2 separate regions of the Homo sapiens genome follow, and region 1 is linked to region 2. The links come from fine-mapping of genetic effects on gene expression. A gene starts in region 2. The other region holds a variant in brackets. All regions are shown on one strand. Distances are between the middles of the regions. Region 1 has its middle 9.6 kb from the start of TP53RK-DT. Region 2 holds the start of SLC2A10 (solute carrier family 2 member 10).

What was found.
Region 1: its variant is fine-mapped to the expression of SLC2A10 in blood mononuclear cells (TOPMed, PIP 0.96).

The regions. Positions count from the first base shown.
Region 1 is chr20:46,677,046-46,682,420 of GRCh38, forward strand. It overlaps a transcript of SLC13A3 not described here. Among named protein-coding and RNA genes, the nearest start is that of TP53RK-DT, 9.6 kb to the right of the region's middle. The variant G/A (reference allele first, on the strand shown) is at 2,564.
Region 2 is chr20:46,707,173-46,712,547 of GRCh38, forward strand. SLC2A10 (solute carrier family 2 member 10) reads left to right here and starts at 2,477. Exons shown (of 5, transcript NM_030777.4): 1 at 2,477-2,568. The coding sequence starts at 2,565.

The DNA.
Region 1 (5,375 bases), 30 kb before region 2:
TGGGATTACAGGCGCCCACCATCATGCCTGGCTAATTTTTGTGTTTTTAGTAGAGACAGGGTTTCGCCATGTTGGCCAGACTGGACTTGAACTCCTGACCTCAGGTGATCCGCCCACCTCGGCATTCCAAAGTGCTGGCATTACAAGCACAAGCCACCACCTGGCCTCACAGCTTTTTATTGAAGTACAACATAAATACTGAAAAGTACACATATAAACATGCCTGCAGTTTCATGAAGTTTTACAAACCCAATCCACCCACATAACCAGCATCAAGCTCAAGAAATAGAACTTGTCCATCCCCCTAGAAGTCCCCAGAAGCCCCCTCCAAATCACTGCCCCTCCCCCAAGGGCAGCCACGCTCCCAACCTTTTAATTATATTTTGAAAGTAAAGCTGGCAGGATCTTTTGCTGGATCGAATGGGGGCGAGGGGAGCTGGTGAAAGACAGGAGTCAAAGAGAGCCCCCAGGTTTGGGGTGAAGTTCTGGATTCCTGGGGCTGCCATTTACTAAGATGGGAAACTTGTGATGGGGGCAGAGACTATGGGTGAAACCAGGGGTTTGTTTTGGGACCTGTTGAGTTTTGGGATGCCCGTGAGGCCCTGGGGAAGATACATGCCATCTTATCTAAAGGTTGCAAATTCAATGCTCTCAGGGACAAGTAACAAGAGGAGTAAGACATATCTCACTCTCCTCTTACCTCTGTAAGAAGAACAACGGGACCAGCGTGATGACAAACAGTGACTCAGAGCCAAAGAGCAATAGGGAGCAGTGGAGACTGGGGCAAATTGGAAAGCACAGGCCCCTCTAAAAGAAGAGGTGTTAGAACAGGGTCCCGTGTGGCAAGATCTCCTGACGATGTTTCCAGAGAAGCCAGATGTCTAGATTTTTACATATGAAACAATCCATATGTATGTTTGAAATTGTTTAACATTGGCATATGAAATTGTTTAACATTGGCAACTAAAAAGCAAACATTATGTGAACCCAAGAAAACTGCCTACAGTTACAGCCACCCACTGGACCTAGATCAAATCTTCCACTTTACAGGTGGAGAAACTGAGGCCCAGGGAAGTCTAGAATTTTCCCCAAACTCACAGAAGGAGTTGGTGGCAGACTTTGGCCAGGCCTTGAATAGGCTGGGTCTCAGTGCCGGGTTCTCACCTCCCAGGCCTTGGTAAGAAGGGGCTGGAGTTAGTCTGTCTCCTTCACTTTGATCTAAATAGAGAGGCTCTAACCTGACAGTAAAAGGCAGCAAGATGCTATGAACAAGTATGGCTTTGGCGGCCTGGGGTCTCTATCTGTGTTGGTTAGGAATGCTTTTGGCTTCAAGTGATGGAAAATCTGATTTATGGTAGCTTCAGCTTTGGAGACGTTTACCTGTGCATATAATAAGTCCAGAAAGTGAGGTCTGAGGTCACTAAGAACAGACTCACACTCTGCCCATCCCTCTACCTCAACATCTTCCTCTCATTGACTCTTTACCATCAGGGGTGGCCTCATGGCCTCCAGATTGCTGCTGAACCTCCGGTTATTGCCATTGCATTGAAAAGCAGACATTGTTGATGGGGATGTGCTGGTGTCAGAGCAGGGAGAGAATTCTTACATCTTCTCACCTTCTAGGAGAAGCAAAATCTTCCACAGAAGCAATCTTCCCAGATTTGCTCTTGTATCTTATTGGCCAGAAAAGGGTCACATGCTGACACGGTTTGGAGGTTTGTCCCCTCCAAATCTCAGGTTGAAATGTGACCTCCAGTGTAGGAGGTGGGGCTGGTGGGAGGTACTGGATCATGGCGGCAGATCCCTCGTGAATGGCTTGGTGCCCTCTCTGTGGTAATCTCTGAGTGAGCCCTGGCTCTGTTAGTTCACAAGACAGCCAGTTGTTTAAAGGAGCCCGGCTCCTCCCCTTCTCTCTCTTGTTCCTGCTTTCACCATGGGACACTGCCTGCTCCCCCTTTGCCTTCCACCATGATCGGAAGCTTCCTGAGGCCCTCACCAGAAGCAGATGCTGGAGCCATGCTTGTACAGCCTGCAGAACTGTAAGCCAATTAAGCCTCTTTTCCCTATAAATTACCCAGCCTCAGGTGTTTCTTTACAGCAATGCAAAAGGCCTAATACACATGCCCATTCCTAATCAGGAACCGATCTGACCTTTCCTGAGATGAAGCTATCTTCGCCTAAAAATATCTAGACTAATTGGGATTCTGTCCAAAAGGAATAAGAAGGGTAGGCCGGGTGCCATGGCTCATGCCTATAATCCCAGCACTTTGGGAGGCCGAGGCAGGCAGATCACTTGAGGTCAGGAGTTCGAGACTAGCCTGGCCAACATGTCAAAATCCTGTCTCTACTAACAAATACAAAAATTGAGACCATCCTGGCTAACACGGTGAAACCCCGTCTCTACTAAAAAATACAAAAATTCGCCGGGCGTGGTGGCGGGCGCCTGTAGTCCCAGCTACTTGAAAGGCTGAGGCAGGAGAATGGCGTGAACCCAGGAGGTGAAGCTTGCAGTGAGCCAAGATCAAGCCACTGCACTCTAGCCTGGGCGACAGAGCGAGACTCC[G/A]TCTCAAAAAAAAAAAGGGGGTGGGGGATGGGCTCACGCCTGTAATCCCAGCATTTTGGGAGGCCAAGGCAGGTGGATCATTTGAGGCGGGACTTTGAGACCAGCTTGGCCAATATGGTGATATCCCCGTCTTCACTAAAAATTCAAAAATTAGCTGGGCGTGGTGGTGGGCACCTGTGATCCCAGCTACTGGGGAGGCTGAGGTGGGAGAATTGCTTGAACCTGGGAGGTGGAGGTTGTGATGAGCCGAAATCACACTACTACACTCCAGCCTGAGTGACAGAGTGAGACTCTGTCTCAAAAAAAAAAAAAAAGAGGGTGACTTTTGGTAGGCAATAATGCCTGGCACAATTTCTACCATTTACAGGCTGATGACTCTGGGAAAGTTGCTTAGCACCTCTGAGCCTCTACTCCCCCATCTGTAAAATGGGTATGGCAGATGGTATTTTGTTTCTTGCCCTCTCAGCATCCATTTCCTATTTTTCTGATGACATACTTTGATTTTCCTTCAGGTAGGAGTTTTCAGAACAGCAGCCTCAGCATCACCTGGGAAGTTGTTAGCAATGCAGATTCTCAGGCCAGTCTCAGACCTTTGATTCAGAAGCTTTGGAATGGCAGCCTGGCAAGGTGGGAAAGTGCGTCTTGTCTACCCTTAGCTTATAAGGGGAACAAATGGAGCTGTATTATAATCACCTGTTTGCTGTTCTCTAAAAATAGTAGCCACTTAAATGACATCACGATAATGATATTGCTCATTGTCACCATGTGCCATGCACTGTGGTAGTGCTCCAACTGCTCCACGTACCTCCTTATATGGATGCTTGTGGTGGACATGGATGTGCGACCCAGATCCCTTAAGGAAGCACCTATTGCCCCAGAGGCAGGGAGAGTGGTCAGCAGTCAGCTCCTGTGGTCAGCTCCTCCAGGGATCAACTCACAGTAGGCAGAGAGTGGCCTTGCCAGAGCTCGTGTCCCTTCCAGGCGTGACACCCCCAACGACTGCATAATGTGAGACTGCAAAGTCCTGGCCATCTCAGGCCATCTTGTGACATCTCTGAAGAGCCATTTCAACTGCAGAGCTCCCGCAGAATTGACTGAAGCTGCTGCTGGGTCTCAGCTCCAGTTCTCCCTCTGCCCGCTCCTGTGTACTCTGCCCTCTCCTGTGTCCTCTGCCATCTCCTGTGTCCTCCATGCTGTGGATGTTGATCCCAAGGGCAGCTCAACTGTATCTGAGTCTGCTTCCTGGGGATCCTGACCAGTGACAATACTCACAGCAACTCCACCATGCAGCACCACTGTGAGTCCATTTTACAGATGAGGACACTGAGGCTCAGAGAGGTACAAGGAGGGGATCCTAGGCCATGCACCTGGTAAACAAGGAGACATGGGCTGGGAAGCCAGCACATTTGTGAATAGAGAAGTGGCATGTTCTGGCTTTAAAAGGGTCCCCTGGGCTGCTGAGTAAGGAAGAACGGAAGGGGCCAGGACAAGGGCCTCCCAGGCCGCGGCTGGACCTTGTCATCCCTGCAGCTTCTTCAGAAGAGCCAGACGCAGCCCATGTGCTCACTAAGTACCCAGTGAAGGAGTGAGTGAAGAGAGAATGGATGAAAACATTAAGACTGGAAGGAACTAGACATCCTCACGTCCGTCTCCCTCATTACATGGTGCATAATTAGCACAGTGCCTGCTACACTTAGGTGCTCAGCTAAGGTGGCGTTGAGTGAATAAATGAACACGTTCAAGGAAAGGAGGGAGGGAGAGAGGGGCATGGACTTGGGAAGAAAAGATGGAAGTAGAGGAAGGAGAAGGGGAGAAAAGAAAGGGAGGAAGAAAGAGGGGAAGGAGGGAGGAGGGAGGAGGAAGAGAAGAGAGAAAGTGAAGGGAGGTTTACCTGTTCGCACCAAGAATGACAGTAACTTACGACCCCTGGTGGCAGAAAAGTGCACAGTCCATTGAAATTGCGGTGCCTAGAATTAAAGGACGCAAGGGAAGACTCCTAGTTCCCCAAGAGGTTCAGGCTGCATTCATTTGTTTTCTATTGCTTTTAACAGAATACTTAAAACTGGGTAATTTATAAAGAAAAGGAGTTTATTTCTTACTGTTATGGAGGAATACAAGGTCGAGGGGGCACATCTGGTGGGGGCACAGCCTTCTTGAAGGTGGGGACTCTACAGAGACCTGAGGCGGCACATGGCATCATGTGACAAGGGGGCTGGGTGTGCTAGCTCAGGTCTCTCTTCCTCTTATAAAGCCACCAGTCCTGCTCTCATAATAACCCATTAATCTATTAGTCCACACGTGGATTAATCAATTCATGAGGGCAGAGGCCTTAGGATCCAATCACCTCTTAAAGGCCCCATCTTTCAATACTGCTAAGTTGGGCATTCAGTTTCCAACACATGAAATACGGGGAACACATTCAAACCACAGCAGGTGCAGACCCTTGTAAGAACATGGGCTCCTCCATCAGGGCTCTGGCAGTCAGTGACAGCTGGGTTAGGACTAGGGTGAAGCAAGTGAGGCACAAATTTAAGGAGGCATCCAAAAACTCAATAATCCAAAAAATATCTTAATGGGATGGTTTTAAAAATCAAATTGGCAAACTATCGCCCACGGGCCGACTGTCTGATTTGTAAATAAAGTTTTATTGGAACCAGGGTCAGGAATATGGTGGATTCTTGCAGTTAAATCAGAGATTATGCCCTGCATGCCTTCGCTAATGTAGATGTTCCCAACCCCTAAGGTAGCACGTGGTGTGGGCGTGGTCAGCTCAGCTCATCCAACAATAAGAACACAGCTTGTTTGGAGCACT
Region 2 (5,375 bases):
ATCACATTAAATTAAAGTTAGATACCATCCTCACCGATTTCTCAGCTTCTGATGGTTAACTGTTCAAGGGTCAGAGGAGAGATTCAAGGCCAAGGGTGATAAGCCTCCTAGTGTCCATGTAGATATAACCTAATCTCTACTTTCTCCTGGAGATGATCCATCTCCTTTTTCTAATCAAGATAATGAACAATAATGAAATGTGTATTCGTTATTTATCACTGTATAACAAATTATTCCCCAAATTTAGTGGCTTAAAGAAACAAACATTTATTATCTCATGTCTTCTAGGATAAAGAATTTAGCATAGCTAAATTCTAGCTCTGAGCAAGAGCTCAGAATCTTGCAAGGTTGAAATCAAGGTGTCAGCCAGGACTAGAGTCACCTCCAGGCTAGGCTGAGGGAAGATTCACGTCCAAGCTCACCACAAGCTTGTTGGCCAGATTTAGCTCCTTAGGGGCTGTTGATTTAAGGGCTTTAGTCCCTCACTGGTTATTGCCTGGAGGCATTAGCTATGTGATTCAATAGCTTCGCTCCATGTGGGCCTCTCCATTGGGAAGCTCAAAACATGGCAGCTCAATTGCTTCATCAGAGCAAACAAGTGAGAGATCTCGAAACTGAACAACACAGAAATCATTTATAACCTAATCCGAAAATGACATCCACCATATTTGCCGTCTTCTATTCATTAGACGTTGCTAAGTGATACTTCTAGTGACATCTAGAAGAGAAGAGGATGCCACTAGGCCACGAATACCAGGAGGGTCTCAGTGTAATCAGACTTTTTATATGAAGGCTCAGGGATCCAGGCACCAGTATTCCAGTGACCCAGCCTCAGAAGTTACACAGTGTCACTCTGCAGGCTACTGATCAAACCAGTCACAAGCCCACTTTTATTTCAAGGGAAGGAACAACGAATTCTGGAGCCATGTTTTCAAACTGCCCCAGCTATTATTATTTTTGAAACTGTGCAAGGATCCCCTGGTTCAGAGGTCTTATGGATGCTGTCATCTTTGCTGAGATACCTGCTTGTGCCTTCAGCATGGAAGAATGCCTGTGTATCCACCTGTACGGTAGGGGTCGCTGTGACTTTGACTGGTGAGGGTACAGCCACTGGTGCACATGCAAAGGTGCCTATCTGTGAACACGTATTGAGAGGCTGGATAAGGCTGCGCCCATGTGAGTGCTGGGCTTGTACGTGCATTTTTGCCTGAGTGAGCATTAGTGGCAGTGTCCCCAGCCTACCCCTTTCCTGAATCCCAGGCTCATAGCCAACTGCCCACCTATTTCCACGTGGATGCCTGCTGAGCACCTCAAATGTCACACAGCCAAGACAGAACTCTGGATCTCCTTTCCCAGCCACAAGCTGCCCCTCTTCCAGTCTGTAAGTTCTTACGGAGCATATATATGTGATCTGCCTACTTTTCTCCAACCTCACCACAGTGACATGAGCCCAAACCAACTTCTCACCTTGCAACAGCCTCCCAGGTGGGAAGGCTGAGTATTCTGGCCCTTAACCAGTTAGAACTCCCCAGTTATCTGTCCTGCTGATGGGGTTGAAATCTACATTCCTGACCCTGGCCCACCAAAGCCCCTCCCTTAGCTCCCATCTCCCTCCTCTCTCCCTGTCTTCTCCTCTGCTCCAGACACTCTGGCTTCATTTCTGCGTTTTTTGTACCCCATAAGCTCCTTCCCACCCCGGGGCCTTTGCCTTTGCTGTTCCCCCTGCGGGGAATGCCGGATCTCTGCTCAGATATCCTCTTCTCAGATCAGCAAGCTAAAGCAGCCACCTGTGTCTGCCTAACCCACCACCGTAGTTTAACTTTCTGCCTAGTCTTTATCACTAGCTGATATTTCTCAGGATCCTTTAGTTACTTCTTTTTCGTCTTCCCCTCCTAGAATGTAAACTCTTCCCCTCCTAGAAGGTAAACAAAAGACCTGTTCTGTTTTGTTCTTCGGCCCATCCCAAGCCTAGCGTAGTGCCTGGTATGTGGTGGTGTCCAAACCCAAGCGTGGAGTGAATGAGGGATGAATCCATGAGAGAGTGAGCGGCTCCAGTGGGTATGCGCGAGTGTCTCACTCGGTGTAGATGTGTGTGTTGTGTGTGTTGTGTGTGTGCGCACGCTGGGGAGGCCAGACAAGTGTGGACCAGTGATTGGGGCACCTCTTCCCTGCAAAGAGGCCAGGGGAAGACAGTGCGTGTGGGGTCTTCTACCAGGGAGGATGGCTTGCTGGTGTGTCCCCCCCAGGGGAGGACTACCAACGAAGGGGACCCGGGAGATGGCGGGTGGGGGCCCCCGGGAGGACAGTGGGCGAGGGAGGGGGTCCTTGCCAGGCCTGGGGCGGCCGGGGGCGGTCCTGGGCTCCCCTCCGTCCCGCCTCCAGGCCTCGGGGCCTGGCTGGCCGACGTGGCGTTGGCGGCGCTGCGCGCGGGAGGGCAGGGCAGGAGGGACAGAGGCGGGGGCGGGCCGGAAAGTTTGTCCGGCGGCAGCGGCGTTGGGGACTCCGGCGGGGGATGCGCGCCCGGCCCCTCAGCGCCCCCAGCACGCCGCCGAGTCCCGCTCGCCATGGGTAAGTCCCGATCGGGCGCTGCCTGCTGGAAGCCCGACCCCTTCCCAGGGTGTAGACACCGCCCCCACGCTCCCCTAAGAGTGCGCGCCCCCTGGCTCCCCCAGGGCCGCCCCGGCCGGATACCGCCTCTCGGGTGGCCAGCCCGAGACTGCAGGCCTGCGGCGGGGGCTGGGACGGGGCTCGGTCGCGCTTCCTTCCATCTTCCTTTCTGCCCCGGAAAAGTGGCCCCTCACTTGCTGCAGCGCCCACTCGGGCCCAGGCACTCTCCCGGGCGCCCTGATCCGACAGCCCCAGGCAAGTGCAGCTGTTCCTGGTCTGCAGATGAAGAAATGGAGGCTCCGAAAGAAGCAAAGCAGTTCATCGATTCGCTGAGCGCGGTTGTGCCCCAGGCGCTGTTGTGGGCCTGGGGACGCTGTCGCGAACGAAACTGCGAACAAAACAGACGAACCCCCTCCTCTGGACGTGATTCTGCAGAGAGGGGACAGAGAAGGAGATTCTAACACAGCATTGGGGTGGGACGCGTGGGGAATGGCTTTGTTGCCACTCGGGACTAGGGCTCTATTTTTCTCTCTGCATTCAGAAGCCTCGAAGGATCAGTCGTTGATTCTTGAGTGAGCACCTACTACGTGCCAGACATTGATATAGGGGTTAGAGCTTCAGCAATGAACAAAATAGACAATAAACCTCTCTCTCATGGAGGTGGCATTCTGATTGAGCAGCTGGGTAAACACGTTTATGAATAACTTCAGAGAGAGATAAGGTGTTGTGGAACCCATAAAATGGGGTGGCGTGAAGGCCAAGGGCGTGGGTTCCTTGGGTAGGTGGTCAGGGTGGGTTTTCTGGAGTAGGACGTTTTGGAGCTGAGAACTTCCTCAGAAGCGGGTCTTGCTGAGATCTGGAGAAAGAGCTTCCAGGTGGCAGCAACAGTGCAAAGGCCCTCAGGCAGGAATGAGTTTGTGTGGCCCAGGCCAGGATGGCCAGAGCACAGCGGGCAGGGCACTGAGGTCAAAGGGATGGCAGAGAGGTGTGCAGGGCTTTGTAAGCCGTGGTGAGAAGTTCAGATTTTATTGCAAATGCCACGGCAAGCTGGAGAAGGGTTTTAAGCTGGAGCGGGGCCGTGACCTGAATTATCTTTTCTTTTTTTTTTCTTTTTTTTGAGATGATCACTCTGTCGCCAGGCTGGAGTGCAGTGGCGTGATCCCGCTCACTGCAACCTCCAGCTCCCTGGTTCAAGCAATTCTCCTGCCTCAGCCTCCCAAGTAGCTGGGATTACAGGCATACACCACCACGCCCAGCTAATTTTTGTATTTTTAGTAGAGAGTGGGTTTCACCATGTTGGCCAGGATGTCTTGATCTCCTGACCTCGTGATCCGGCTGCCTCGGCTTGGGATTACAGGCGTGAGCCTCCGCGCCCGGCCCTGAATTAACTTCTCAAAGTTTGCTCTGAGTCGTTCTGTGGAGAATCACAGTCGCTAACACTGGCTATGATGTAGGTAAGCATAGAAGGTAGGCATTAATATCCCATTTGTAGATGGGGAAGCCCAGAGAGGTGAGGTGAGTTCCCCAAGGTCACACAGCTATGGAGAGGAGAAGCTGGGAAGGAGCCCCAGCATTCTGACTCCAGTCTGCATTCCTAACCACTGCACCACGTGGCCTGTCATGGTGGATTAATGGTAAAACTGGTGACCAGTTCCGGCTCTGACAGGAGAGTCCATCCTCTTAACCCCCACAGCACAGTGCCCCAGAGCCTGAGAAAAAAATGAGGCCCAGAGAGGTCAAGGTCTTCTTAAGGACACTCAGCTTAGCCCTAGCCCCTTGTTCCTGCACCTCCTATTCCTGCTAAATCAACCCAACAGCCATTTGCTGAGTGCCTTCTATGGGCAGAGCGAGGGCTGGGTGTTAGTGCTGGGGGAGGCATAAGTCATGGCTGCGGGTCTCTGTCCTCCCCAGAATTCTTACACAGCAGGGACCAGGGATTGGGCTCTCTTTATAGCCTCTGGGGGCAGAACTGGGTTCTAGACCCAATTCCTCTCACTTTGTTCCACCATTCCACTTTGACCTGGGAGAGTCTGCCAACTTCTCTGGTCACTATCAAATACCCTTATCACAGGGTAGCCATGAGAATGATGTGAAAAAATGAATTACAGTGCTCGGCTCATCACCTATATCTGGTAAATGGTGAGTGAATGTGAGTTTTTATTTTATATTGCACCCAATATTGGGATTCTGGAGTCAGACTGCCCGAGTTCAAGTTCCTGCTATGTGACTTACAAACTGTGCCACCTTGGGGAAATGTCTTCACCTCTCAGTGTGGTGGTTATTTCTGTAAAATGGGAATGACAATAGTGATTGTCATAGGATTGTCTAGGGATTAAGCCAGCTGGTACAGATACTGCCCCTTAGGAGAGTGGCTGGCTATAGTGGGTACTCCAAGTATCAGCTGTGGCTGCAATTGCTGGGACATTTGGAAGCCGGCCATCTGCAAGAGGATATTCATACAGTTCAATTTCACATCTGGCTTCTCCCTGGAGCTTCAGGGAAAGCCACAGCAGGTCTCTGGTGCAGGAGGGACCCAGTGCTCTGTGACCTCTGGTTGAGACACTACTCTAGTGTCACCAACGGGAGGCCTAGGACTTGCAGCTGGAGATACTTGCATCCCAAACCAGGGTTCTCCCCCCTCCCCCTGCCCCCTGACCCTGTCCCGGGGAAGCTGTGCCCTCCACAGCGAGGGGCTTAGAGGATTAAGGGATTTCCTCCAGTGTGGGACATCTTCACTACAGCCTATGTTAGGCAGGTTATTAATAGAA